Regions from separate parts of the Homo sapiens genome. Here region 2 is linked to region 1. Evidence: fine-mapped expression QTL. A gene starts in region 1. The other region holds a variant in brackets. All regions are shown on one strand. Distances are between the middles of the regions. Region 1 holds the start of IMMT (inner membrane mitochondrial protein). Region 2 overlaps IMMT (inner membrane mitochondrial protein).

Evidence for each region. PIP is the estimated chance that this variant, and not a neighbour inherited with it, causes the effect.
Region 2: its variant is fine-mapped to the expression of IMMT in unexposed skin (GTEx, PIP 0.97).

What each region holds. Positions count from the first base shown.
Region 1 is chr2:86,185,745-86,202,769 of GRCh38, reverse strand. IMMT (inner membrane mitochondrial protein) reads left to right here and starts at 7,308. Exons shown (of 15, transcript NM_006839.3): 1 at 7,308-7,432. The coding sequence starts at 7,388. It overlaps MIR4779 (microRNA 4779), which reads left to right and starts at 9,662; the gene lies at 9,662-9,744. MRPL35 (mitochondrial ribosomal protein L35) reads right to left here and starts at 3,313. Exons shown (of 4, transcript NM_016622.4): 1 at 3,237-3,313. The coding sequence starts at 3,279. RefSeq lists enhancers at 3,225-3,494, 7,318-7,437, 7,458-7,637, 7,758-7,807.
Region 2 is chr2:86,169,017-86,180,276 of GRCh38, reverse strand. It overlaps IMMT (inner membrane mitochondrial protein), which reads left to right. Exons shown (of 15, transcript NM_006839.3): 3 at 655-844; 4 at 6,516-6,627; 5 at 8,932-9,069; 6 at 9,433-9,528. Among named protein-coding and RNA genes, the nearest start is that of MIR4779, 18 kb to the left of the region's middle. The variant C/A (reference allele first, on the strand shown) is at 7,308.

The sequences.
Region 1 (17,025 bases):
CAGTGAGCCGAGATCTTGCCACTGCACTCCAGGAGACAGAAGGAGACTCTGTCTCCACAAAAGAAAAAGAGATAACAATTTGCAACTGAAAAGGGTAGCATAAACATTGGTGCAGAAAACTGATGAGAGAGCCCTTACATAGGGCCTTGGAAATCAAATAAGTTAAATCGCAAAGAACTGAAAAGATGTGCAGATGTAATAAGGCAGGAGGTAATCTTTGGAAGATTAAGTGCATTGGAGGACTGTAGACAAGAAAATGTTCCAATTTTCACACGTCATCAGATTTTGGTATCTCTTGGTTAAAAAATTAAAACCTATGAAATTCTTTTGTTCTCAATTTTTATGAAGATCCTGAGGCTGCATAAGACATATTTATCAATTTTCCCAAAAAGCAAGCTGGGAACAATGGCTTGTTAATGTATTTGTGAAGACACAGAGTATCAGAACTCCAAGTGATCTTAGTAAGAGAGAAAAACAGATCAAAACCAACAAGATGAAATCAGGAATAAATACACTGAAGTTAGAAAAAATGGTTACGGGAACAACAGGAACTGGGATCTTGGTTGAGAGCAGTTCATGGGAAAATATGTGGGGAGGCTCTATCTACTGCGCCTTCTGGTGGATCAATCATGTGATTAAGCCTGTGAGGGAAACCTAACAGTCTAGCTTTGTTAACAAAAGTGCAGTACATCAAGGAAAGTAACTAATTTCCTTCAGTCCTCTGCCCCGTCTGGGCATTTTCATACAGACTAGTCTACTCTAAACACACTGTTGTATAGAGAATACAGATGTTTTCACAAAAGAGGTAACGCAAAACCAGAGTTTTGACAGAGTACGAAGAGACAGAGGGAATAGGACGTACAAAGGTGACGATGTACATTTGGGGAATTACAATGGCCCTATGTGGCATGAATCAAAGGAATGAATGGGGGACATGAACTGCACTGGATGGGAGTGGAGGAGACTGTGACAGTATCGAAACCAGGAGTCTTCAAGATTTCTGATCCTATGTTTCCTAAAAGAATTTTGAAAAACTACCCTTTCACAAATTCTTAATATCTAAAATATCAAATAGTTTAAATTGTTAAAAAGGCTATAATTTCCAGCATATTTAAAATACTGACATTTTAAAATAAGCTGTCACATCACTCTTTAAATTGTTTTCAGTAGAATCTAAATTAATAGTAAGTTGATAACTACCTACATCATCTATTTAAAAATTACAAGAACTATAAATTCAAGTAGATGAAAAACAACTTTTCGTCAAAGGGCACTCCAAAATAATGTAAAAAAGACAAGCCTGAGTGGGAGAAGCTAAAGGACACACACAAATGAAAAACAAAAACAAAACAAAAAATACTCTAAATAAATAAGACAAACAATCCAATAGGAAAATGGGCAAAATATTTAAGTGGATATTTCATAAAGGAAATTCAAAAGGCCAATAAAAATGTGAAACACACTATAGCTTGTTATTAATCAGAGAAATGCTTATTTAAATCTCAATGAGATACCATTACAAAGCCACCAGATTAACAAAAATTTGTAGGTCTGACAATATCTATTGACAATATCAATATCAGGTGTTGGTGAGGATGTGGGGCCTCAACAGTTTGGCAATATCAGGCAATGCTGAATATATACATATTCTCTGACCAGGCAATTCCACAGCGATTTTCACACATACCCACATCCTCAGAAACAATTGGACTCATGCGCCAGGATGAGATCAATCAGCTTTGTACATAATTGCCCCAAACTGGAAATGGAGAATTGTGGCACAGTCATATAATATTATACAGCAGGCCGGGCAGGGTGGCTCACACCCGTAATCCCAGCACTTTGGGAGGTCGAGGCGGGCGGATCACCTGAGGTCAGGAGTTCCAGACTAGCCTGACCAACATGGAGAAACCCCAACTCTACTAAAAATACAAAATTAGCTGGGCGTGGTGGCGCATGCCTGTAATCCCAGCTACTCCAAGGGAATCACTTAAACCTGGGAGGAGGAGGTTGCAGTGAGCCCAGATCGTGCCATTGCACTCCAGCCTGGGCAACAAGAGAGAAACTCCGTCTCAAAAAAAAAAAAAGAATTATATAGCAATGAGAAAGCATTACAGCTACGCAAAATGAATGAATGAATCTCACAATGTAAAAGAAGATACTAAAGCGTATATACTGTATGAACCAATTCATGTGAAGTTCAAAACCAGGCAAAACTATGTTCTTGAGATGCACATATGGATGCTAAAACTACTATAGGAAAAATAGGCAACCTAATAGTAACTATAAAAATGAGAACAGTGTTTATATCTGGGGGGGAAGTAGAGAATTTTGATACATAGGGGAGAGGAGGCTTCTGGTAGTGCACTGTTTTGACCTGAGTGTTAAACAGGTGTTTGCTTTAGAACTGTTAAATCATTCATGCATACTATATAAAATTTTCTTCATATGTATTATATTTCGCGAACACAAAAAATACTCCACATAAAAAAAGCTTTTCTCTAACGGTAAAATTTACATCGCTGCATTTTCTTGACTGATCTCGTATATTCTCCCACAAAATGTTATCCTAACAATATATTTTGTGTGAAAGTAACTTACTGAGCATCCTATGGTATTTGGATGATTTTTAACTTTTTGCAAAAAGTACTTAACGTCACGGCAACTTAATTTAGTCGCCTTTACTTCTGCTATCTCTCAGTCAAGAAGTCCTCATACCAGCCCTTGTGCCGGGGGCTGTAGTTAAAAATTAAATTAGCCTTCAAGCTTACCATGTGTCAGGCACTGCCCAAAACGCTTTACGTGCATTATCTCATTTAATCCCCAGGTAGGTGGTTATGACCCCCATTTTAGAGGTGTAGAATCTTAAGTTAGGAGACATTAATTCTCAAGGTTAAAGGTCGTGAATGGCAGGTCGTAGCCTCTAAATCAGAAAGTTAGGTGAGACTTTTTGGTTTCCCTCGCCCCCTCCGTTCCAGTTTCTCTGGCTTCTTTTCTAGGGAAAAAAAGCTGGTAAGGAAGCGGCAAATGCGTGACACACAGGCCCGCGTGAGTCCGAGTCGGGGGACTTGGTACGGGCTGCCGGTCACACCGCCCCAGAGAAAATTGGGCGCAACCTTCTTAACTTAAATAATGACCCTTTTTGCTTGTTAACCTCCAGTCTAAACGCCCATTCCATCCCGCACCAGTTTCCCCTTCTGTGAAGGCATGCATGGAGTATGTCGCTCTCCACTGACCTGAAGCTGCTCTCACTGCACCAGCAAAGGCAGAGGCAGCCATCTTCACCTTCGCCTACGGCGGCCGCTTTGGGTTTAAAAGCACAAGAGCAAAAGAGAATGAAGGGAAAGCAAGGAGGCGGAGTCAAGGAAGAGGAAAAGAACAAAGTTGTCCACTCAACATTTATTCAATGTCATCTGCCGGGTTCCGTTCTTCGCCGCTGTAAAACGACTGCCTATAGAAGGTTCTACAAAATTTCTTATTAAAAAAAATTCTTGGGGCCGGGCACGGTGGCTCACGCCTGTAATCCCAGCACTTTGGGAGGCCGCGGCGGGCGGATCACAAGGTCAGGAGTTCGAGACCAGCCTGGCCAACATGATGAAACCCCCGTCTGTACTAAAAATACAAAAAGTAGCCGGGCTTGGGAGGCTGAGGCAGGAGAATCGCTTGAAACCGGAAGGCGGAGGTTGCAGTGAGCAGAGATCGTGCCACTGAACTCCAGTCTGGGCGAAAGAGCGAAACTCCATCTCAAAAAAAAAAAAAAAATTCTTGCCGGGCGCGGTGGCTCACGCCTGTAATCCCAGCACTTTGGGCGGCCGAGGCGGGCAGATCACGAGGTCAGGAGATTGAGACCATCCTGGCTAACAGGGTGAAACCCCGTCTCTACTAAGGGGTACAAAAAATTAGCCGGGCGTGGTGGCGCGCGCCTGTAGTTCCAGCTATTCGGGAGGCTGAGGCAGGAGAATCGCTTGAACTTGGGAGGCGGTTGTTGCAGCAAGCCAAGATTGAGCCACCGCACTCCAGCCTGGGGTACAGAGCAAGATATAGGGTGTATTACCTTGGAACACTATTGTTGCCAACTTGATCTCCCACCTATGGTGGCCACTTTGAGTCCAAAAACAGGCACATACGCTAGACAAGTATATTGAAACATTCATAAAAGCTCTTTGAATTGGCAACGGGAGTCATTGCGCACTTTTTTTTTTTTTTGAGACTAGGTCTTGGTCTGTTGCGAAGGCTTGAGTGCAGTGGTGCGATCACAGCTCACTGCAGCCTCGACCTCCTAGGCTCAAGCAATCCTCCCACCTAAGCCTCCTGAGTAGCTGAGACTACAGGCACACACCTGGCTAATTTTTAAATTTTTTGTAGAGACCTAGGTCTCACTATGTTGCCCAGGGTGGTCTCAATTATTTGGTATGGAATCAAACAGGTCTCCCACCTTGGCCTCCCAAAGTGCTGGGATTACAGGTGTGAGCCACTGAGCCTGGCCTCACTGCACATTTTTGAACAAGTGAGTGACTTGATTTAAATTTTGTTTTTTAGAGACAGGGTCTGAGTGCAGTGGTGCAATCACTGCAGCCTGGAATTCCTGAGCTCAAGGGATCCTCCCACCACAGCCTTCCAAGTAGCTGGCACCACAGGCATGCACAATCATCCCCTGCTAATTTAAAAAAATTGTTTATAGAGATGAGGTTTCACTTTTTTTTTTTTTTTTTTTTTTTTTTTTTTTTTTGGAGACAGACTCTCGCTCTGTTGCCCAGGCTGGAGTGCAGTGGTGCGATCTTGGCTCTCTGCAAGCTCCGCCTCCCGGGTTCACACCATTCTCCGCCTCAGCCTCCCAAGTAGCTGGGACTACAGGTGCCTGCCACCACACCCAGCTAATTTTTTGTATTATTATTATTTTTTTTAGTAGAGACGGGGTTTCACCGTGTTAGCCAGGATGGTCTCGATCTCCCGACCTCATGATCCGCCCGCCTCGGCCTCCCAAAGTGCTGGGAGAGGTCTCACTCTTTTGCTCAGGCAGGTCTCAAACTCCTGGGCTCAAGTGATCCTCCCACCTCAGTCTGCCAAAATGCCGGGATATGAGCCACCACACCCAGCCCCTGGTAACAAATTTTTTTTTTTTGAGACGGAGTTTCGCTTTGTCCCCCAGGCTGGAGTGCAGTGGTGTGATCTTGGCTCACTGCAACCTCTGCTTCCCAGGTTCAAGTGATTCTCCTTCTTCAGCTTCCCACATAGCTGGGATTACAGGCGCGCACCACCAAGCCTAGCTAATTTTTGTATTTTTAGTAGAGACGGGGTTTCACCATGTTGGCCAGGCTGGTCTCGAATTCCTGACCTCAGGTGATCCGCCCGCGTCAGCCTCCCAAAGTGCTGGGATTACAGGTGTGAGCCACAGCGCCTGGCCTGCCTGATAACATTTTAAAGCAAAAATATTGACAACTTCCAAGTGGAGAGTGAGGACTCTCCACGTAGGTTATGAGGGGTTGGGAGGCTAATTTTGAGGTTTGAGATCTTGAAGCTAGAGAGGTTGCTAATGATGTTCAGGCGCAAGTTGTGGCTGTGACGTACATGACTGAAGCAGGATGAAAACATTCACTGGCATTGACAAATTCAAAGCCAAGGGTGTTAGAAAAGTCATCACACGGGCACCACATGACTGAAGCAGGATGAAAGCGTTCACTGGCATTAAGAAGTTCAAAGACAAGGGTGTTAGAAAAGTCATCACACCGGCACCACTGGGCATGACAGCAGTGGGCAGGGAGGCAGCAATTCAATTGCTAAAATTACTAAAGAAAACGGGAGACTGCTCTGGAAGCTAAGTGAAAGAGATATGAAACATATGTAATTACTGTAGTCCCCTAAAAACCATAGAACATAGAACATATACAAACATAACTATTGCTTTCAGATAATTTTCAAGTCCATCTCTCCATGCTACAAGTCATAGCGCAGTCTACCTCTAGAGAGAATACATATTGTAATAAATTACCCAGTTAAGACTTGGAATACTTTGCAAATCCAATAGAAGATAGAAAAGTTAGTTTCCACGATATTGCAATAAGATGCTAATAGTATTAATACGAACATATTAATTCTGGAGTATACATGGAGTATTAATACCATGCTTAATATTTAACGTGTTTTATTTTGATTACAGAATCAATGGAATACTTTTGTTTTTTGAGACAGAGTTTCGCTCTTGTTGCCCAGGCTGGAGTGCAATGGCGTGATCTCGGCTCACTGCAACCTCCGCCTCCCGGGCTCAAGCAATTCTCCTGCCTCAGCCTCCCGAGTAGCTGGGATTACAGGCACCCGCCACCATGCCCAGCTAATTTTTTGTATTTTTAGTAAAGACGGGGTTTCACTATTTTGGCCAGGCTGGTCTCGAATTCCTGACCTCAGGCGATCCACCCGCCTTGGCCTCCCAAAGTGCTGGGATTACAGGCGTGAGTCATAGCTCCTGGCCCTACTTTTCTTTTTAAATTTTTTGTTTGTTTATTTTTCTATATAGAGACGAGGTCTCACTGTGTTGCCCAGCCTGGTATCGAACCTCTGGGCTCAAGCGATCCTCCCGCTTCGGCCTCCCGAAGTACTGGGATTACAAGCGTGAGCCACCGCGCCCTGCCCAGTGGAATACTTTCAACGGTGCTTCTGCATTGACTTCCCATCTTCCAACCCATCCACAAACTGCAGCCAAAATGATGTTACTACAGTAACAACTTGGAGAAAGCAGTGTGGCTTAATCTGGAAGGAGCAGAAGCTGTGGAGTCCAAAGGACCCGTGTTCCTATCCTTGTTGTGCCACTTGACACGTTTAGCACAAGGGTCCCCACAGTGTTAGTTCACCGTCTCCAGCAATCACTATGACTCCCTGGAGGGCTGTCAAACGAAACAAAGGCGCAAACTGAGACAATTCCATTGTTTACGTAACTTTCGCCAAATCGGCTCCTTCCTACGAAATATCCAGCTCATAGAGCAGGCTGAGATGCTTTGTTGCTTTAATTCTCTTTAAGAGTCACAGCTGTCCATTTTCCACGTGCGGCTGAAGAATGGATTTCAGAGCGCTCTCCCTCCGGCAGTGTTCACCTAGTAACCCCTTCCGGATAAGGACCTGCAGCCCGGGCGCGACCCGGAAAGGGAATCCGCCCTTTTCGCCTCCTTCGCGCCAATCGCCTGGAGTTGGCGTTTCCGCAGCCGGGACACAGCCCACCCTCTAAGAGCCGCGGAGTCGGGGACGGTAGAAGGGGCCGCGCGTGCGCAGTGGCGTCCGCTGTGCTTCCGGTGCGCCGGGCGCGGACGCGGGCACGCACACACGCAAGCACGCCTCCACTTAACTCGCGCCGCCGCGGCAGCTCGAGTCCACCAGCAGCGCCGTCCGCTTGACCGAGATGCTGCGGGCCTGTCAGTTATCGGGTGTGACCGCCGCCGCCCAGGTGAGCACTGGGGCTCCCGGAGGCGCGTGAGGAGGCTGAACTAGAACCGTCAGCGAAAAACGGGGGAGCCTTGGTCGCTGCCTAGCCTCCAGGACAAAGGCGAGCCTCAGGGCCACCCTCGTCGGGAGAGGCCCGGGCGGGCAGCTAGGCAGCCACCAGGGAGTTCGCCGGACTGGGATGACTTGAGGTTATTGCAGCAGCGGGGTGGGGTGTGGAGAGTAGCGGGAGGCGCGGCTTCGTGGGCATGTAGTCCAATCAGGGCCGCGCTGCCCCCGTCCAGGACCAATCCTGGCTGCTGGCGTCTGGGTCGCCGGTTGGGCGCGCGATAGGTTTTCAGTGCTGAAGGTCGACGGGCGAGAACTACAGTTCCCGTCAGGACGAGCGGAGCGGCGGCTTGTTGCATCCTTAATAAGGAGGTGCCTGGACTTCTAGCGAGAGTCCACATTTTAGGGGTCAAGGTTGTAATTATCTGGGAGGGAGTGCCTTTCTTTTCGCAGCTGAGAACACTTCTGAGTTATTCTTAATCCAAACAAAAGCGAAAGATTTTCATTTGTGGAGCTGAAACTCCTGGTCTTCAAGGAAAGACAGGAGTCATGACCTTGTGGCTCATTTCTGAGATTAGGGCAGGGATCTGTGTCTCCAGGCGCTGGGACTACTTTGACATTCAAGGAGCCTAAATACCCAGTTACTTCTAGTTTTGCGTAATTGCCAAAGTTACTTTCTAAAATTGAAAATTAAAAAGCCTGTTTCCACTGCTCATGATTTTCAGGAAGTTGATATTTTGGCAAAATGTAGATAGCAAACCAAGTACTGTGACTCAAGCAGTAATTGAACAGAATCCCTAGGAATAGTGAGTTAGAGATCATAAAAGTCAAGCTTTGTTTTTTCAAGTTCGCTTCTCTTCCTATTTGCTGCTAGGTAACAGAAGCAGCCCCTTCCATAGGAAAGTGGAACGAACCTGTGTTAGTTTTCTATTGCTGCGTAACAAATACCACAAATTTAGCAGCTTAAAACAACACCCATGAATGACCTTACGGGTTCTGTAGGATAGAAGTCTGGGCACGGATGATCTGTGTTCTCCGCTCCAGGTCACATAAGGCTGCAAAGTATTAGCCATGCTGTGGTTCTCATTTGGAGATCAGGGTCCTCTTCCAGGCTCATGCAGTTTGTTGGCAGAATTCAGTCCCTTGCAGTTACAGGACTGAAGTACTTCTTTTCTTGCTGCCTCTTGCCAGCCACTGCTCCCAGCTTCTACAGCCTGCCTACAGTTCCTTGCCTCAAGGCCTCTAGAGGCCATTCATAACATTGATGTTTGCTTTCGTGCAGGCTACCAGGAGCTTGCCTCTCTGACTTCCAAATTTCTTTTACTTTGGTCTTTCCTCTCTAGACCCAGATTTAAAAGGCTTATGTGATTAGACCAGGCCCACCTGGATGACCTCCTTTTCAGTTAATTCAGAGTCAACTTTTTGGGATCCCATTTGGGAATTAAGAAAACTAATTAAAACTTGGTAATAAAAAATGAACCCTTTTATAGCTCTGAATCAAGATGTCTAAGCTTCTTGAAATTGCTGTCTTGTAAAATTCTTTGGTTTATTCTCACCATCTCCTTAATTCTGTAGCATTTGACATTGCTGCTTTATGAGGCTCTTTGTACTTTTGGCTTCTCTCAAGTAATATTTTGGGTCCCATCTCTCTTGTTTTCCTTTACTGAGTCTGCTTCTGCTTTGTACCTCGAAATATACACCTTCTCATCTCTTCCTGTCTCTTTATAGACTCTCTAATTTGAGATTACATCAACTCTCAGAACTTTAATCCCCAAGCAGGTGACTCTCTAGCCTCGTCGTATTTGATTGTATCAACGTATCCAGAATATCTCACTTGTCAAGATCCTTTCCACTTTATTAAACCCCATCTTTCTTTTTTTTTTTTTGGATACGGAGTCTCACTTTGTCACCCAGGCTGGAGTGCAGTGGCACAGTCATGGCTCACTGCAGCCTTGACCTCCTGAGCGCAAGCAATCCTCTTACCTCAGCCTCCTGAGTAGCTGGGACCACAGGCATGTGCCACCATCCCTGGCTAATTTTTTAAAAAATTTTTGTAGAGACGGAGTCTCTCTGTGTTGGCCAGGCTGGTCTCGAACTCCTGGGCTCAAATGATCCTCCCACTTCTGCCTCCCAAAATGCTGGGAATATAGGCACGAGCCACCGTGCCCAGCCAACCCCATCTTCTTAAATGTCTTACTGCTTTTACTGTTCCCTCCTAGAGTCCATTCTTTACTCTAGGAGGGAATAGTAAAAGCAGTAAGACATTTAGTAAAAGGCTTTTTAAAAGGCAAACATGAGGTCATGCTCTTTGGAGACATCGCATCACATTCAAAATAAAATCTAAACTGCTTACCATGGGCCCTTGATCTGACTCTTCTCATATTTCATTTTTCTACTGCCTCACTCAGATTCTCCTGGTAATCTCCAGCATGTGCCTCACTGCCTTTTCATCAGGTGTTTCTTTTGCCCTGAACTCTTCTCACAGGTTTGCTTAACTTATTCCCTTCAGTTAATTTCTCAAATGTCACCTTCCCTTCAGAGAGGGCATCCTGATCCAAAATAGAATTCTGACTACTCTTGCCTTCCTTGTATCACTATATCTTTACCCCATCCTACTTTGTTATACTTTGTAGCTCCTAGCACTACCTGATGTTATAATGTGTATTTATTACACAGTTTCCACCTTTAAAAAGTAAGCTCCACAATGGAACTGTGTCCATATTTACTGCTGTATTTCCAGTATTAACAATAGTCCCTGGCTCCAAGTAGATGCTCAGTGAATGTTTATGACATATATAAATGAAAGAATGAATGTGTTCATGAATTTTTTTTTAATTTAAAAAGATTTTTTAGAGATGGGGTCTCATTATGTTTCCCAGGCTGGTCTTCAGCTTCTGGGCTCAAGTGATATGCCCACCTCGGCCTCCCAAAGTGGAATTTTTCTTAATCTGTGTAAGTGGATGTGACCTCCCTTTAAACATCCCATAGATTTTCAAACCTCTGATTATATATTCAGATTCTCCAGAGAAACAGAAACAATAAGGGTGTGTGTGTGTGTGTAGAGATAGGGTCTCATTCTGTTGCCCAGGCTGGAGTACAGCAGTGTGATCATAACTCATTGCAGTCTCAATCTCCTGGGCTTAAGCGATCCTCCCACCTCACCTCCTGAGTAGCTGGGACTACAGGCTTATGCCACCATGCCCAGCCAATGTTTTGGACTTTTAGTAGAGATGGGATCTCGCAATGTTGTTCCAGCTCATTTTGAACTTCTGGGCTCAAGCAATATCCCCACCTTCTCCTCCCCAAAGTGCTGGGATTACAGGCGTGAGCCATAGTGCCCAGCCTAGGAAGATTTATTATTTATTTATTAATTTTTTTTGAGATGGAGTCTTGCTCTGTCACCCAGGCTGGAGTGCAGTGGCGCCATTTCAGCACACTGCAAGCTCCGCCTCCCGGGTTCATGCCATTCTCCTGCCTCAGCCTCCCAAGTAGCTGGGACTACAGGCGCCTGCCACCACGCCTAATTTTTTTTTTTTTTTTTTTTTTGTATTTTTAGTAGAGACGGGGTTTCACCGTGTTAGCCAGGATAGTCTCGATCTCCTGACCTTGTGATCCCCCCACCTTGGCCTCCCAAAGTGCTGGGATTACAGGCGTGAGCCACCGCGCCTGGCTGAAAGATTTATTGTAAGGACTCTACTCACACAGTTATGGAGACTGGCAAGTCCAGAATCTGCTGTGTGGTTTGGCAGACTGGAGACCTAGGACAGCCAATATTGCAGTTGCAGTCTGCTGGCCAGCAGCCTGGAAACCCAGGAGAGTGGATGGTGCAGTTTCAGTCTGGAGGCAGTCTGCTAGAGAATTGCCTCTTGCTTTTTGTTGTTTTTGAGCCCTCAACTGATTGAATGAAGCCCACCCATGTTATAGGGCAAATTTTTTTTTTTTTTTTTTTGAGATAGGGTCTTGCTCTGTCACCCAGGCTGGAGTGCATTGGTGCAATCTCAGCTCACTACAACCTCCATCCACCAGACTCAAGCCATCCTCCCACCTCAGCCTCCTGAGTAGCTAGGACTGCAGGCATGCACCACCACACCCAGCTAACTTTTGTATTTTTTTTTCTGTAGAGACAGGCTATATTACCCAGGCTGGTCTCAAACTCCTGGGCTCAAGCAATCCACCCGCCTTTGCCTCCCAAAGTGATGGGATTACAGGAGTGAGCCACCATGCCTGGCCACTAGTTCACCAATTAAAATGTTAATCTCATCCAAAAACACAGTCCAAGTTGACACATAAAATGAACCATCACAGATAGTATCTACCTTATTCTTTGCCCAGGCTGGAATGCAGTGGTGCAATCTCGGCTCACTGCAACCTCCGCCTCCTGGGTTCTAGCAATTCTCCTGCCTCAGTCTCTCGAGTAACTGGGACTGCAGGCACGTGCCACTGTGCCCAGCTAATATTTTGTATTTTTAGTAGAGACAGGGTTTCACCATATTAGCCGGGATGGTCTCGATCTCCTGACGTCGTGATCTGCCCGCCTTGGGCTCCCAAAGTGCTGGGATTACAGGCTTAAGTCACTGCACCCGACACAGTATCTGCCTTATTCTTTATGTTTGGGCTTATCATCCTTGCATTCCTTAGATGTGGGTATTCAGTAAATGTGCTTTAGAACTCTGGTCCCTCTGTTTTTGTTTTCTTCTTTTATTCCTCAGACCTAACACCATCTTTCTTCTCTTAGTCCCAATACTGCATCACCAGGCCCAGCCTTTTTGAAGTGGTCATTGAGTTTGGAGGACATGGGCTTTCCGCCTAGCCTAGCCTTCTCTCAAACTACAAACCTGGAAGTGGTCATTTACATATGGAGTAGTCTTTCCTGCTTATAACTTGAAAGAAGAAGAAGAAACATTATTATTCTTGAGGATCAACCGCTCCAGCTTACTTAAGACCAAGTTTGATAACCCAGCTAGTTTAGGATTGAACTTGTGTGTGGACATGAGCTATCATCTTCTAGAATTCCTTCTTTCTGTTAGGATTATGAAACATTATGTTACTCAGTGATAGAGATAGGCAGCCAACCACACGTGCTAGAAAGTAGTTTAGTAGATCATGCGGCCAGGTGTTTGCTTCTACCCATGCTAGAATCCTCTTCATTGTTCCTTTTTTCATATCTCTAGACCAGTAGCCTTCAAACCATTTTGAAATACATCTTACGCCGTAACTTACTACACCGAAGTGATAACATACAAAATATATTCACATATGTGCAGGGAAAACTAAAGTGTCAAGTTCCTGCTTTTGTCATACTGATAAGTATCTGCCATTTCTATAACTAAAGAGCACGTGTTCTCCTAGAATAGAATATGTTTATACTGAAATGTAATGCTGCTTCAATGTAAAATTGTAATGTAAAATGTAAAATTTCAATGTAAAAACTTACTGGATTTTTTTGTGGGATATACTTTTTAACCTTAATGCATGATTCTTATAAACTATTTTAAATTAACAGTAGAAAAAGTTAATTTGTTGTATATCAATCTATATTTCAAATGTAGAACTGCCCATTAACTTATGGGTGCCTTTTTCGTTTGTGTGGGAGGAGTCCTTATGTATGACAAGATCCACAAAAACGTTATCAGTTGACAGCAACCAGCAGTCTGTGGAGGAAACCTGGAACCTCTAGTTAGAGTTCACATGAGGCAGCTCATACTACAGGCTCCATGTCCAGGTTGTCATGCTAGATTGTGGTTTCTTTATGTCTTCACTTTAGTTTGGTAGAGCTAAGGAACAGATGGTCTGTGTAACAGCATTAATCATGGGGCGGAACACTTGAGGTCAGGAGTTCAAGACCAGCCTGGCCAATATGGTGAAACCCCGTCTCTACTAAAAATACAAAAATTAGCCGGGTGTGGTGGCAGGTGCCTGTAATCCCAGCTGCCCGGGAGGCTGAGGCAGGAGAATCTCTTAAACCCAGGAGATGGAGGTTGCAGTGAGCCGAGATCACACCATTGCACTCCAGCCTGGGTGTCACAGCGAGACTCCATCTCAAAAAAAAAAAGAACATTACATGGGAATTATATGTTTCCTCTTTTTTTTAATATCACGTTTCTGCGGGTTAGAAGCAGCAAGGCTAACCTTATAACATATGTCTAGACAGATTGCTTTGAAACAGTGTTGTCCTTTCTATGTCATAGGTCCTTATTAATAAAAAGGAATTCCAGGACAAAAAAGTAGCCAATATTTTGTGTGTTAATGTAGGATATTTAGTTTATGTTAATAGTTTAGTACTTAAGAGAGCTCTGGAGACAGACCTTATGTTTGGCAATGGTTTCTTAACTATAACACCAAAAGCACAAGCAACAAGAGAAACTAAAGATAAATTGGACTTCATTAAAATTTTAAATTTTTGTGCATCAGAGGGATACTTGAGAGTGAAAAGGATGAAAGTATTCTAATGGATACTAGATATTTTGGATACTAGACCCTCATATCTGATGAGGTGTTTCTTTTTAGGTAAGGAACTCCTGCAACTCAGTAACAAAAAAGACTACCCAAATAAAAATACAGGCAAAGGGCCCAGGCTCTGTGGCTCATGCCTGTCATCCCAGCACTTTGGGAAGCTGAGGCAGGCAGAACGCTTGAGCGCAGGAGTTCAAGACTAGCCTGGACAACATGGTGAAACTCTGTCTCTACAAAAAATACAAACATTAGCTGGGTGTGGTGGCATGCACCTGTAGTGTTAGCTACTCGGTAGGCTGAGAGGTGGGAGGATTGCTTGAGCCTGTGAGGTCGAGGCTGCAGTGAACCATGATGGTGCCACAGCACTCCAGTCTCGGTGACAGAGTGAGATGCTGTCTCCACATATATACATATATGTATTTGTGTGCGTGTGTGTGTGCGCGTGTGTGCGTGTATGTGTATGCATGAGCAAAGGACTTGAATAGCCATTCATCCAAAGCAGATATACAGATGGCTAAGAAGCACATGGAAAGATGCTCAACATCCTTTGACACTAGGGAAATGCAAATTAAAACCGTGAGATACTCAGTTCACAACCACTAAGATGGTTATAATAAAAATGGAAAATAACAAATTAGCCGGGCATGGTGGTACACACCTGTAATCCCAGCTACTTGGGAGGCTGAGGCAGGAGAATCACTTGAACCCGGGAGGCGAAGGTTGCAGGGAGCTGAGATTGCGCCATTGCACTCCAGCCTGGGCGACAAGAGCAAAACTCCATCTCAAAACAAAAATGGAAAATAACAAATGTTGGTGAGGGTATAGAGAAATTGGAACCCTCATACATTGCTAGTGGGAATGTAAAATGGTACAGCTGCTGTGAAAAAATAGTTTAGTGGTGTCTCAGTAACTTTTTTTTTTTTTTCTGGAGACAGAGTTTCACTCTTGTTGCCCAGGCTGGAGTGCAGTGGCGCGATCTCGGCTCACCGCAACCTCTACCTCCTGGGTTCAAGGGATTCTCCTGCTTCAGCCTCCCGAGTAGCTGGGATTACAGGCATGCGCCACCACGCCCAGCTAATTTTGTATTTTTACTGGAGACGCGGGGCTTCTCCATGTTGGTCAGGCTGGTCTCGAATTCCCAACCTCAGGTGATCTGCCTGCCTCAGCCTCCCAAAGTGCTGGGATTACAGGCGTGAGCGACTGAGCCTGGCTGTGTCTCAGTAATTTAAACATAGAATTACCATATGACCTTGAAGTTCCCTGCCAAAAGAATAAAAAACAGGTGTTCAAACAAAAACTTTTAGATGAATATTCATAGCAACATTATTCACAATTCACAGCCAAAAGGTGAGGCAACCCAAATGTCCATTAACTGATGACTGGTTAAACAAAATATGGTATATTTACGTGATAAAATATTAGATTCAGCCATAAAAAGGAATGAAGTACAAGCTACATATGTGATACATGTTACAATGTGAATGAATCGTGAAAACATTACACTAAGTGAAAGAAGCTGGACAAAAAGATGTACATTGTGTGATTCCATTTATACAAAATATCTCAAACAGGCAGATTCATAGAAACAGAAAGTACATGGTGGTTGCCAGGGGCCAGAGAGAGAGGAAAATGGGGGATGACTGCTTAATGGATATAGGATTTCCTTTTAGGGTGATGAAAATGTTCTAAGATTAGATAGTGGTGATGGTTGTTGTACAACATCGTGGATGTACTAAATACCGTGGAATTGTACATTTTAAAATGGTTAGAATGGTGAATTTTATGTTAAGGGGATTTTGTCACATAGAGGAAAAAAAAAATACCTGCCACCAGGTATTTGCAGATGGCCGGAAGTATAGAGCCAGAGCTAGATACACACATACACACCCTAAACTTGCAGAGGCTTCCATTGGCCCAAGATAGGAAAATTTGAGCAAAAAGACAGTAATTACAAATGGTTGAAATCCATCAAAAGTGTTTAAATCCATGAATTTAAAAAGATCTGTTCTTATGAGTTACAGCTGCATAACAGGCCACCTTGAGCTTGGGGTAAAATAACAGTATTTATTGCCTTACTCAGTTCTGGAAAATTTTTGCTCAGAGACCCTCATGAAGTTGCAGTCAGATAGTTACTAGGTCTACAGTCATCCCCAAGTCTTCTTTACTCTCATGTGTGGCAGTAAATACTGGCTGCAGCTGACACCTCAGCAGGGACTGTTGGCTGGATCACCCATCTGTGGCATCTTTAAGTGTCTGGACTTCCATACACTTTGGTGGCTGGGTTCCAAGGGCAAGTGTGACAAGAGGCAGAGCTAGGTAGAAGCTGTATCCTTTTTATGTCTTAGTCTCAGGAGTTACAGAGCATCACTTTCACTGCCTTCTATTAGTGAATTAGTAACAAAGGCCTGCCCTTGTTTAAGGGAAGTGTACATAAAACTTATTATTGTTGGGAGAGGGGCACGTTTCTGGAACAGCATGTGGTATAGGAAGTATTGTTGCAGTCAATTTTGGATATTATCCTCAGCCTTCTGGACCCAACTGACATCCCTCCCACATGCACATCCCTCCCACTCACAACCTTCTCCAAGACTCTCCAGAGTCTAATGCCATCAAAGCATCAGCATTAGGAACAAGATCTTGTCATCTGAATCAGATCCTACTATGGATAAGACATCTTGAATGTGGTCCCTAGGGTATAGCTTCTTAAACACTTTTTTTGGTGATCTAAAGCCCTGTAAACTAAAGAGACAAATTATCTGCTCCCCATACATTCAGCATATGGTGGTATGACAGACACAGGATAATCACTCTAGACACTCCTATTCAAAAAGGCAGAAACTAAGAGGCACACAGCAGTCACCATTCCATAACAAGTGTAAAATTCAGCTGGCCCTATGTTTCTAATTCCTTGATGAGAGCTCAGTCCTACTGCTTGGGAATGATTCTCCTCAGCTCTTGGTTCTACCCTTTGGGCTCCTGGTTTTACACTTGAATTATTCTTCCGTTTCCAGAATATGTTGTCTGTTACAGCTGAATTGTTTCACAGCCTACTTCCTGTCTGTAGAAGTTTGTCTAGAAGCTTCTTTTCATTTTGTC
Region 2 (11,260 bases), 20 kb after region 1:
AAATAAAAAAAAGAGTTTATTGTGTTTATAGAAATGTTTGATTGAGGAAGAGGAGCCTTGAAAGTGATAGTTCTTGTTTGGGTTCAGAGAGAATCTCATGATTGTGAACATGTTGAGTTAAAGGGTAGATTTCTAGATATTGTATTTAAAAAAAATTTTTAGTTATTCATACTTTTATTTATTTATTTATTTATTTTTTGAGACAAGGTCTTGTTCTGTTGCTCCAGGCTGGAGTGCAATGGCATGATCATGGCTCACAGCAGCCTTCATCTCCCAGTCTTAAGCATTCCTCCTACCTCGGCCTCTTGAGTAGCTGGGGCACGTGCTACTACACCTGGCTAATTTTTTTGGCAGGGTGTGGTGGGTAGAGATGGGGCCTTACTGTGGTGCCTAGGGTGGTTTTGAACTCCTGGGCTCAAGCAACCCTTCCACCTAGGCCTCCTAAAATGAATAAATACTATTTTTGGTGGCAACATGTTATAAACAAATCAGGAAAAGGTGATGTGCAGACATGGTGGTAAACTTGGCTGCTATGATCTGAATTAGTGGTAGATAAGTAGAGGCTAGAGGTCTTCGAGATGGTTACATTGGTATAGGAAAATAGGTGTAGGAGAGCCAAGAAATATAAATGTATTTCCTGTTTCTTTCACTTAGGTTGACTACTGGCAAAATTGCTGGAGCTGGCCTTTTGTTTGTTGGTGGAGGTATTGGTGGCACTATCCTATATGCCAAATGGGATTCCCATTTCCGGGAAAGTGTAGAGAAAACCATACCTTACTCAGACAAACTCTTCGAGATGGTTCTTGGTCCTGCAGCTTATAATGTTCCATTGCCAAAGAAATCGGTAAGAGTTTTAAACAATATTTCAGTTTATCCAATGAAATACTTTAAAAGCAAGTTGTTTTCATGTTGAAAATACAGTTGTCTTTTGGTATTCTTGAAGGAGAGGTTCAGGACCTCCTGTGGATACAAAAATCCCATGGATGCTCAAGTCTCAGATATAAAATGTTACAGTGTTTGCATATAACCTATGTATACCCTCCCATATACTTTAAATCATCTCTAGATTAGATGTAATATCTAATACATTGTAAATGCTGTCTAAATTTTCATTATACTGTGTTATTTAGGGAATGATGACAAGAAAGAAAAGTCTGTCCATGTTTAGTACAGATGCAGTTTGTTTTTGTTTGTTTTTGTTTTTGTTTTTGTTTTGAGACAGAGTTTCACCCTTGTTAACCAGGCTGGAGTATAGTGGTATGATCTCGCCTCACCGCAACCTCCGCCTCCGGGTTCAAGCGATTCTCCTGCCTCAGCCTCCCGAGTAGCTGGGATTACAGGCAACTGCCACCATGCCCGGCTAATTGTTTGTATTTTTAGTAGAGATGGGGTTCACCATGTTGGCCAGACTGGTCTCAAACTCCTGACCTCAGGTGATCTGCCCGCCTCAGCCTCCCAAAGTGTTGGGATTACAGGCATGAGCCACCATGCCTGGCCTCAGGTGCAATTTTTTAAAAAATATACTTTTTCAATCTGTGGTTGGTTGAATCTATGGATGTAGAACCTACAGATATGGAGAGCCAGTTGTGTTTTGTCTGTATGCAGTGCAACTTGCCAGATGTATGTATGTTAGTTTTCTTTTTTTTTTTCCAAGACGGAGTCTTGCTCTGTTGCCCAGGCTGGAGCACAGTGATGTGATCTCGGCTCACTGCAACTTCCGCCTCCTGGGTTCAAGCGATTCTCCTGCCTCAGCCTTCCAAGTAGCTGGGATTATAGGCGGGCGCCACCACACCCGGCTAATTTTTTGTATTTTTAGTAGGGACGGGGTTTTACCATGTTGTCCAGGCTGGTCTTGAACTCCTGACCTGTGGTCCGCCTGCCTCGGCCCCCCAAAGTGCTGGGATTACAGGTGTGAGATACCATGCCTGGCCAGTTTTTTTTTTTCTTTTTTTTTTTTTTGAGATGGAGTCTTGCTGTGTCACGCAGGCTGGAATGCAGTGGCCTGATCTCAGCTCACTGCAAGTTCCGCCTCCCGGGTTCACGCCATTCTCCTGCCTCAGCCTCCTGAGTAGCTGGGCCTACAGGCGCTCACCACCACGCCTGGCTAATTTTTTGTATTTTTTTTAGTAGAGACGGGGTTTCACTGTGTTAGCCAGGATGATCTCGATCTCCTGACCTCGTGATCCACCTGCCTCTGCCTCCCAAAGTGCTGGGATTACAGGCTTGAGCCACCGCTCCTGGCCGCCAGTTTCCTTTAAATTGAACTAATAGTAGCTGGTACAGATGGATAATTATTCTTTTGGAGTCCCATAAGTGCTCTCAGTACATATCACATAGAAAATAACTGTGCTGCACACAAGGGTAAATGGAGGAGATACTTGGGTAGAGGTAACCATGGTTTCCCTATGGACTGAGGGGGACATCTATATATTATCCCATACTGTTGCAGCTATCAAGCTCTTACTTAGAACACTATAAAAACAAGTGCAGAATGGTCATGACATAAAACCACGTATTATGGTTAGTAATGGTTCCTTTTAGACCATAACACAAAGTCACAGAATTTTCATCTAGATGCTGATTAGTTGACAGGATATCTTGTACTATTCCTGTAACTTTGTGTGTATTCCTTTTTTTCTCACCAGCCTTAAAATTTTTTTCTTTTTTTTTTCTTTTGAGACAGAGTCTCGTTCTGTCGCCCAGGCTGGACTGCAGTGGCGCGATCTCGGATCACTGCAACTTCTGCCTCCTGGGTTCTGGCAATTCTGCTTCAGCCTCCCAAGTAGCTGGGACTACAGGCGTGCACCACCATGCCTAGCTAATTTTTGCATTTTTTAGTAGAGATGGGGTTTCACCATGTTGGCCAGGCTGGTCTTAAACTCCTGACCTCAGGTGATCCGCCCACCTCAGCCTCCCAAAGTGCTGGGATTACAGGCGTGAGCCACTGCGCCCAGCCTAAAAAAATTTTTAAACTCTAATCTTAAATGTTTCTTCATTCACACACAGCTTCTTGTAAAAAAAAAAAAAAGTCTGTAAAAGAGCATGGATTTTTGGCTCTTTGGTATTGGGCATTTCTTTACGCTAGGAGGCTGGACATAGCTGATCAGTTTATTCTTAGAAACTGGGTGGACTTACTGTCCAGTATCTAACATGATCTAGAGACCCATCCTATAGCAAAAGTTAACGTTTGGAAAAATAAATGTCATCCAACTTCCTCCCTGTAACCCACCCCAACCATACTTTTTCACAATGTTTTTGACTAGTCTTCTACATCATTTATTCTTCCCTATGGACTTTAAAATGTCCATATTGGCTGAGGGAGATAATTTTGCAGCTTCATAAGTCAAGGAGCAGAACCCTGTGGATTTATTCTAAAATCTTGAATCTATTTTAAGCTGCATGACCCAGGAAAAAATAGCTGGAAGCTGTTCTAGGAGCATGGAGTAAGGTTGAAAAATTCAGAGAAGTGTTCTTTTCTCAGTTGATGTGACTTCAGATTTCATTCTTTGTAGATGAATCCTTTATCTCTCCAAATAGCCTTGGCCTCTCCTCACTCCACTTTAGCTACCTTGGAGAACATTTCTAGTTAATAACTCAGCATGTTTGTACTAAACCACCTCCACACTTACACTGCTCCTTATTTGCTTTTTTGGATTAAAGATAGTACCAAGTTGTCAGGTGTAGCTAGGCCAGAATTCGTAGATTCTTCACAGGTTGCTCATATTTTGTTAGCTATCCTATCTTGTTTAATCTTCTTGCATTACCACTATCCGTACCCCTATTCTGACCTTTATCACTTCATATCCAAATTGTCTCCTGAACTAGGCCTGTTGCTCTCCATGCGCACACAGTCTTTCCCATCTTCCTCCCAGTCTCTACCCACCTAGATCTCTCCTCCTAACAGAATCTGGGTCATCCTTATATTAATACCAGAGAATCTTCTAAAAGAAGTGCTATGATATTTTCATGATAACACCTATTAATGTACTTCCAGATATTTTGTATTGTTTAAAAGATGGAAGACCACAGGATGTAAAAACTAGAGAAATCTTTCTTACCTTCTGAATAAGTATGAAGCCAGGAGTGCTTAAATGTCAGCCTAGGAACTGGCCATTGGGCTCCTTTATTTCTGTAGTTTGTGGTCTTTGCTAGCTTTTAAGTTGACATTCAATACCCTTGGCAATCTGGCACTTGTTTACCTTTGCAGCCTTATCTCTGGGTCCTGCACATAAGCCCTTAGCTGTACACCAGTTGCCCTTCATTACAAATATGTCTTTGCTTTCCATTTATTCATTTATTCAACCAATGTTAATCAAATGATTATTATGCTGCAGGCACTGTTCCAAGGGCCATGCTTAAAGATAGAACTCATCTAAGATCCCTTCCATTTGTACAGCTTTTTTTCAGGATGGTCTCCTACCCAGAATGACTTCCTTTCCTTCGCTTATTAATGTTCTCTTCAGGGGCTGCATCCTTCACTGTACAGATCTAAGTTAATTTTCTCACCTCTGAATTACAATAGCAGTTAGTGTTTCTATTTTTTTTTTTTTTACCATTTACTCAAGCACTCTCTACTGTTAAACATCGTGTCAACTTGTTGCTGTGCATTTTATTTCATAGTAACCTTTTTAGTGGCAACATGATTTGTTATAACATTGTCTCTATATTTACTGTCCATGCATAAAATCTTTTTGATGGACATGGAATAACACCTGCCTAAATGGTTACAACTGTTACATTCCTGGATAGAACTTCATATCATAAAAATGTCATTTCTCTCAAATATATATGTATGTCATTAAAGATAGTACCAAGATAGTACCAAATATATATTAAGATAGTACCAAATTACATTAAGATAGTACCAAATATATATGACATACATATATATATATTTGAGAGAAATGTATATGTATATATTAGAGAGAAATGATGTTTTTATGATGTGTCTATATACACAAATCTAGTAAGAATTTGAATGAATTTTTCTAGATGGTGAGGAACCAGATAATACAGTTTTAACATTTATATGGAGGAATTAATGATGTACAAGACTACTCAAGAACATTTTGAAAAAGGGATGAGGAGGGGTGCTTTTCTAGATAGACTTTTTTATACTGCTACTTTAATAAAATAAGGTTGGGACACAGGAAAAGAAATTAGAGGAATAAAACAACTGAATTTGGAAATAGATCACACACAAACTTTAATTATGAGAATGTGAATCACTAGAACCTTAAGTGAAAGTGATCTGTTAACATCTGTTAAAAATATACAACCCCTTTGACCCAACAATTCCTCTTCTGAAAACTATCCCATAGATATTACACTACGGTGCTTTTCATTTAAATGGACAGGGATGGATGTTCATTGCTTTGTTTGTAGCAGCAAAGCAAAACAAAACAGGAAACAATTTGAATGACTATAGAGGAGAAGTTGACCAAATTATGGGAAATCGTTATATGAGGATATTATGCAACTAAACAGAATTTCTTGACCTGAAAGAGAATGTCCATGATATAGTGTTAAATAAAAAAAGAGCAAGTTACAAGGTAATTTGTATAATATAACCCTATTTTGGTTTGTTTAAGGAAGTGAAACATTGTTTATGTGTATATACGAGAGCTTTTGCTCAGGAGTAGAAGGATAGATTCCAGGCTATTAGCAGTGGCTACCTAAGAGAGTGGAAAGGGAAAGGAGCAGTGAAGAGGCAAGTTAAAGCCACTGATATATCTTGGCATTATTTTGCTTGTTACAGTAAACAGTCTTCATCATTCAAAAATAATATTTTAATGAAAATGGAAATAATTCTGGTTTCTGGTAGTGACTAAGTTCAGAACCACCCTGTTGTGTTTAAGTAGTCATGTTAGGGATATCTGAGTCCTACTGCCAAGTTAGGGCAAAAAGTGGAATAACATAAGTGGAAATAAAAATAAAAGTAATTTTCTCTGGCACATATCTGGCAGCCCTCTTAAATGAATAGTGTCTTAAACTTAGAGCAGGCAATAATTGGGAAAGGGGAAGGCAAGCCTTGCTTACAAATTGATCATATATCTTACTGTGCAATTGCATGAATCCTGGAGATCAAAGAAACAAAATTCATTTGTATTTTCACTCAGAGCCTTTAATAATCATTTGCTTCTAACTGAATGTATACAGAAGACATCATAGTTTGATTTAGAAAGGAAATGATAATAGTCTTCTTAATACTGTGTAAGTACAAGCAATGGTGTTTAATGAGAAGATCATATGTCATGGACTTTATTGGTCACCCTAATAGAAACCTTTGTTACTATTAAAATATGGGCTGGTCATTTGGAATGAAATTTTTGAACTGCACTTTTCTAGTAATGGTGGTTTCTCTCAACTATGTTTAATAAAATACATATGTTACAAAGTGTTGATAACTTTATGTTAAAAGCCTGAAAGACTTGGCATTTGAAATACTGCAAATCACTGTACCTTTTTAAAAAACAGTAGTATATCTGAAATGTTAAATGTTTTTTATTTCCAAGATTCAGTCGGGTCCACTAAAAATCTCTAGTGTATCAGAAGTAATGAAAGAATCTAAACAGCCTGCCTCACAACTCCAAAAACAAAAGGGAGATACTCCAGCTTCAGCAACAGGTACTTATATTTTGAACCATCTTTTTAAAATTATAGGTAAATCTCTTCACCAATTCTTTTTTTTTTTTTGAGATGGAGTTTCGCTCTTGTTGCCTAGGCTGGAGTGCAGTGGCACAATCTCGGCTCACCGCAGCCTCCACCTCCCAGGTTCAAGCGATTCTCCTGCCTCAGACTCCTGAGTAGCTGGGATTACAGGCATGTGCCAGCACGCCCAGCTAATTTTCTATTTTTAGTAGAGGCGGAGTTTCTCCATGTTGGTCAGGCTGGTCTCAAACTCCCGCTCTCAGGTGATCTGCCCGCCTCGGCCTCCCAAAGTGCTGGGATTACAGGCGTGAGCCACCATGCCCGGCCTCTTCACCAATTCTTTATCCTCTCTTCTTTCTTAGTGATGAAAGTGTCTTGCTCTAGTCCCTGCAGATATTTTTTGACTTCAGAAACTACCAGTCACCCCACCCTAATTTACAGCACTTGCCTGTTGAACTCTAACCTGTTCAGTATACATTTGAACTTCTTATGTTTCTCCTTTGTTGTGTCTGTCCTTGATTAAATCACCTGACTTTCTTTAATTCAGCAGAAATTTACTGTCTTTTCTGTGCTAGACATTCTTGTAAGTACTGGGGAAACAGCCATGAACAAAAACAGTTAAAAAATTTTTTCAGCTAATATTTCTTGATTGGGTG[C/A]GGAGAGGAAATAAACAAGTAAAACGTATAGGATGTCAGACATTGTGGGAGGGAATACTGCAGTTTTAAATGGAATGTGTAAGGAATACCTTACCTGGAAGGGGTTATCTGAGCAAAGATTAGAAAGAGATAAGGGGGGTAAGTCATGTAAAAGGGTGGTGGGGAAAAGCATCCCAGGCAGCAGGATTAGCTGGTGTAGAGGCTTGATATATTCAAACAAAGGGCAAATGAGGCTAGAGTGAATTGAGTAAGGGGAGAACAGGAGCAAATGAGGTCAGAGAGGGAGCAAAAAGTTTATTGTGGCAGTCCTTGGAAGCCATTGTAAGAATTTTATTTTAGGCCAGGTGCATGGGCTCATGCCTGTAATCCCGCACTTTGGGAAACCAAGGCGGGAGGATCACCTAAGCCCAGGAGTTTGAAAGTAGCCTGGGCAACTTAGCAAGATCCTGTTTCTATAAAAAATTAAAAATTAGCTGGGGATGGCGGTGCATGCCTGCAGTCCCAGCACTCGGGAGGGAGGACCACTTGAGCCCAGGAGGTTGAGGCTGCAGTGAGCTATGATTGCACCCCTACACTCCAGCCTGGGTGACAGGGCAAGACTCTGTCTCAAACAAAAAAAAACATTGTTTCATATGCTGGGTGGGATGGGAAGAGAATGCTGAGCCAGGGGATTGATAATTGACTGTTACTTTAAAACCAAGGCCGGGCACAGTGGCTCACACCTGTAATCCCAGCACTTTGGGAGGCCGAGGAGGGAGGATCACTTGAGCCTAGCAGTTTGAGACCAGCCTGGGCAAGAGAGGGGAGACCCTGTCTCTACAAAAAAATGTAAAAATCAGCCAGGTGTGGTGGTATACACGTATAGTCCCAGCTGTGTGCCAGAGGCTGAGGTGGGAGTATTGCTTGTTCCTGGGAGGTCGAGGTTGCAGTGAGCCATGATAGTGCCACTATTCTCCAGCCTGGGCAACAGAGTGAGACCTTGTCTCAAAAAAAAAAAAAAAAAAAAAAAATATACTACACACACAAAAAATTGATTGAGTGATTGATAGAGATGGGATCTTGCTGTGTTGGCCAGGTTGGTCTTGGCCTCCCAAAGTGTGCAAAAAATATATATATATATATGTATTTTAACTCAGTTCTGTTCTTGATCACTGTGACCTTTCATCTTTTTGTTTAAAACTGTAATCTTTTTCCTGCTCACACGTCTTCTACCACTCTTCAAAGCAATTAAAAAATATTCTTTGTTTAGTTGCTTTCTTTTGTCTGTCTTCATCATTAACAGGCTTTTTCCTTTGTTACTCTTTTTCCATGTGTAAATGTCCCCTTCTTGTGTGTTAATATTATTATTATAAGCCTTGCCTGGAATAATGATGGTTAAAATGCAGGTGGATGCAGACAAGACTTCTTTCTTTTGTTCGTTCCCAACCATTGTCCATTTTGTGTGAGTTTATGTATGCAGTGGACAGTGCCCCTGTTTGTGTGTTATTCAAACATGTGGCAGTACAAATATTTGTGTCTCTAAGGAGTCAGATGTGAAGTGGGTGGTGATGGTGGTAGTAAATTTCTGTGTGTTTCTCTGTTAACCCAGGAAAGTATAAATACCATGAGTAACATATATTTATAGCACCTACAGAAGCGGCTCAAATTATTTCTGCAGCAGGTGATACCCTGTCGGTCCCAGCCCCTGCAGTTCAGCCTGAGGAATCTTTAAAAACTGATCACCCTGAAATTGGTGAAGGAAAACCCACACCTGCACTTTCAGGTAATTTAATTATTTCTATTTGTTCTTTTATACATGATACACTCATCAGAACTATTTAATGCCTAGGCAACACGTAGACACTAAGTATACATTTACACTAGGTTTAGGTCTTCAGAGTTTCTTAGGAAATTTTTAAAATTTAAATGTCCGAATGTATCTTTTTAAACAAGAAGATTAAAGCCTGATTCCTATTTCTTCATTTTGGAATCATTAAGAGTAATGATATGGTTTTAGAATTCTTAACACAAAAATGCCCTGCATTGATATAACTGGCCAGTACAAACGATGCTTTTTTTATATCCCTGTTAGCTATTAAAATTCTATGCTGAAATTTGATTTCCTCTTATTTACTTTTGCTGCAAGAAGAAGCATCCTCATCTTCTATAAGGGAGCGACCACCTGAAGAAGTTGCAGCTCGCCTTGCACAACAGGAAAAACAAGAACAAGTTAAAATTGAGTGTATGTAAACCAGACAGCTTCTTAAGGATTTTGGGTCATCTCCCAGTTGCTCTCTTCTTAAACTATCAGCACAAGTTTGTCATCTATCACCTAGTTGTGGTTTCTTTTGTTGCTGCGGTTGTTTTTTAGTGGCATTGCTTTATTCATCACCTTCATTTCATCTAAACTTCTTTTACCTAAGTGACAAAGGCTATTCTTAGTGTATAGTTGGTGAAAACTCCAAATAATACTAAAGATTATGTTAGCGCTAAAGATTCTTTATACTCTGGGAAACAGAAATTGATTATTTATGTTTTAGCAGCTTGCCTAAAAGTCCTTTATTTATTTTTTTGAGATAGGCTCTTTTCTGTCACCCAGACTGGAGTGCGGTGGCACTGTCATGGCTCACTGCAGCCTCAACCTCCCAGGCCAAAGCCATCCTCCCACCTCAGCCTCCTCTGTAGCTGGGACTACAGGCGTGTACCACCATACCCAGCTAATTTTTTAAAAATTTTTTATAGACACAGGCATCTCACTATGTTGCCTAGACTGGTCTCGTACTCCTGGGCTCAAGTGATCCTCCCACCTTGAACTCCCAAAGTGCTGGGATTACAGGCCTGAGCCCTTGTACCCAGCCCTAAGAGTCTTTTATTAATAATTGTTAATTTATACTTGTAAATAATTGTTTATTAATAATTGTAAATTTATTTGTTGGAGTCAGAATGGCTTACACTGCCTTATCATCTAGCCTCTGGACTCTCTAGTAGTGCTTTTATCTGACACTGGTGGGGCATGGAATGTTCTACACATCGCTGGTTTCCAGCTAACAAGCATATTCCTTTTTAAGTTTCAGTTTTATGGTTTTTTTGTTTGTTTGTTTTTAAGAGATGGGCTCTTACTGTGTTGGTCAGGGTAGTGTTGGACTCTTGGCCTCAAGAAATCCTCCCACCTTGGCCTCCCAAAGTGCTGGGATTACAGGCATGAGCTACCACACCTGGCCAAGTTTTTTTTATCATTATTATTATTTTTGCTGTCCTCGGTAGGTCAGGATTCTTAAATTTTTTGATGGTTTAAAAAAGATAATAGATATTTATCAATTTATTTTTCTGTCTTAAAGCACATGTAACATAATTTTTTGTACTGTGCTATAATATGTTGATGTCTCTGGAGGTCGTGGGATGTAGCTTTTTGCTGGACAGAGAGTTCAGTACTCATGGCAGCTGTTTATAGTTTTTTGATCTCCTTGTCATTTGTTTTGCTCCTGTTTCCCTTGTAATGTGCTGGTTCTGCCCTACCCTGAGGAACCAAGTTTCTTAGAATAGCATAGGTGTCATTCTGTGCCTATGGCATTAGTTTTCCTACTTGGATTTGGATTTTCGTTTTTGATTTTTTGTATTCTTCTGATTGTGTTACAAATATTTGTGAATATTTAATAAATGACTTCTAACTAAGTGAAATATTTCATTTTTCCTACTTCTTTTTTCTTTTAGTCCTGTTTTTTCTTCACTTTTCACTTTTCTCTCTTTATCACTTGGGCACCTTGAAATTAAGTTATAAACGTAAGATGGAGATGTCTGCTGTTCCAGCTGTTCTTTTCCTTGCCTGGTTCCTCTCATCTTTCATTTTGGGCAAAGTGAAAATTTTCAGAATTTTATCTGTCACCTCTTAATTCCCCCTCAAACTTGACTTTAAAAATATACACATATGCATTTGCATGTGAAATATTTATCAAGGATCAAAGGACAGTGACTAA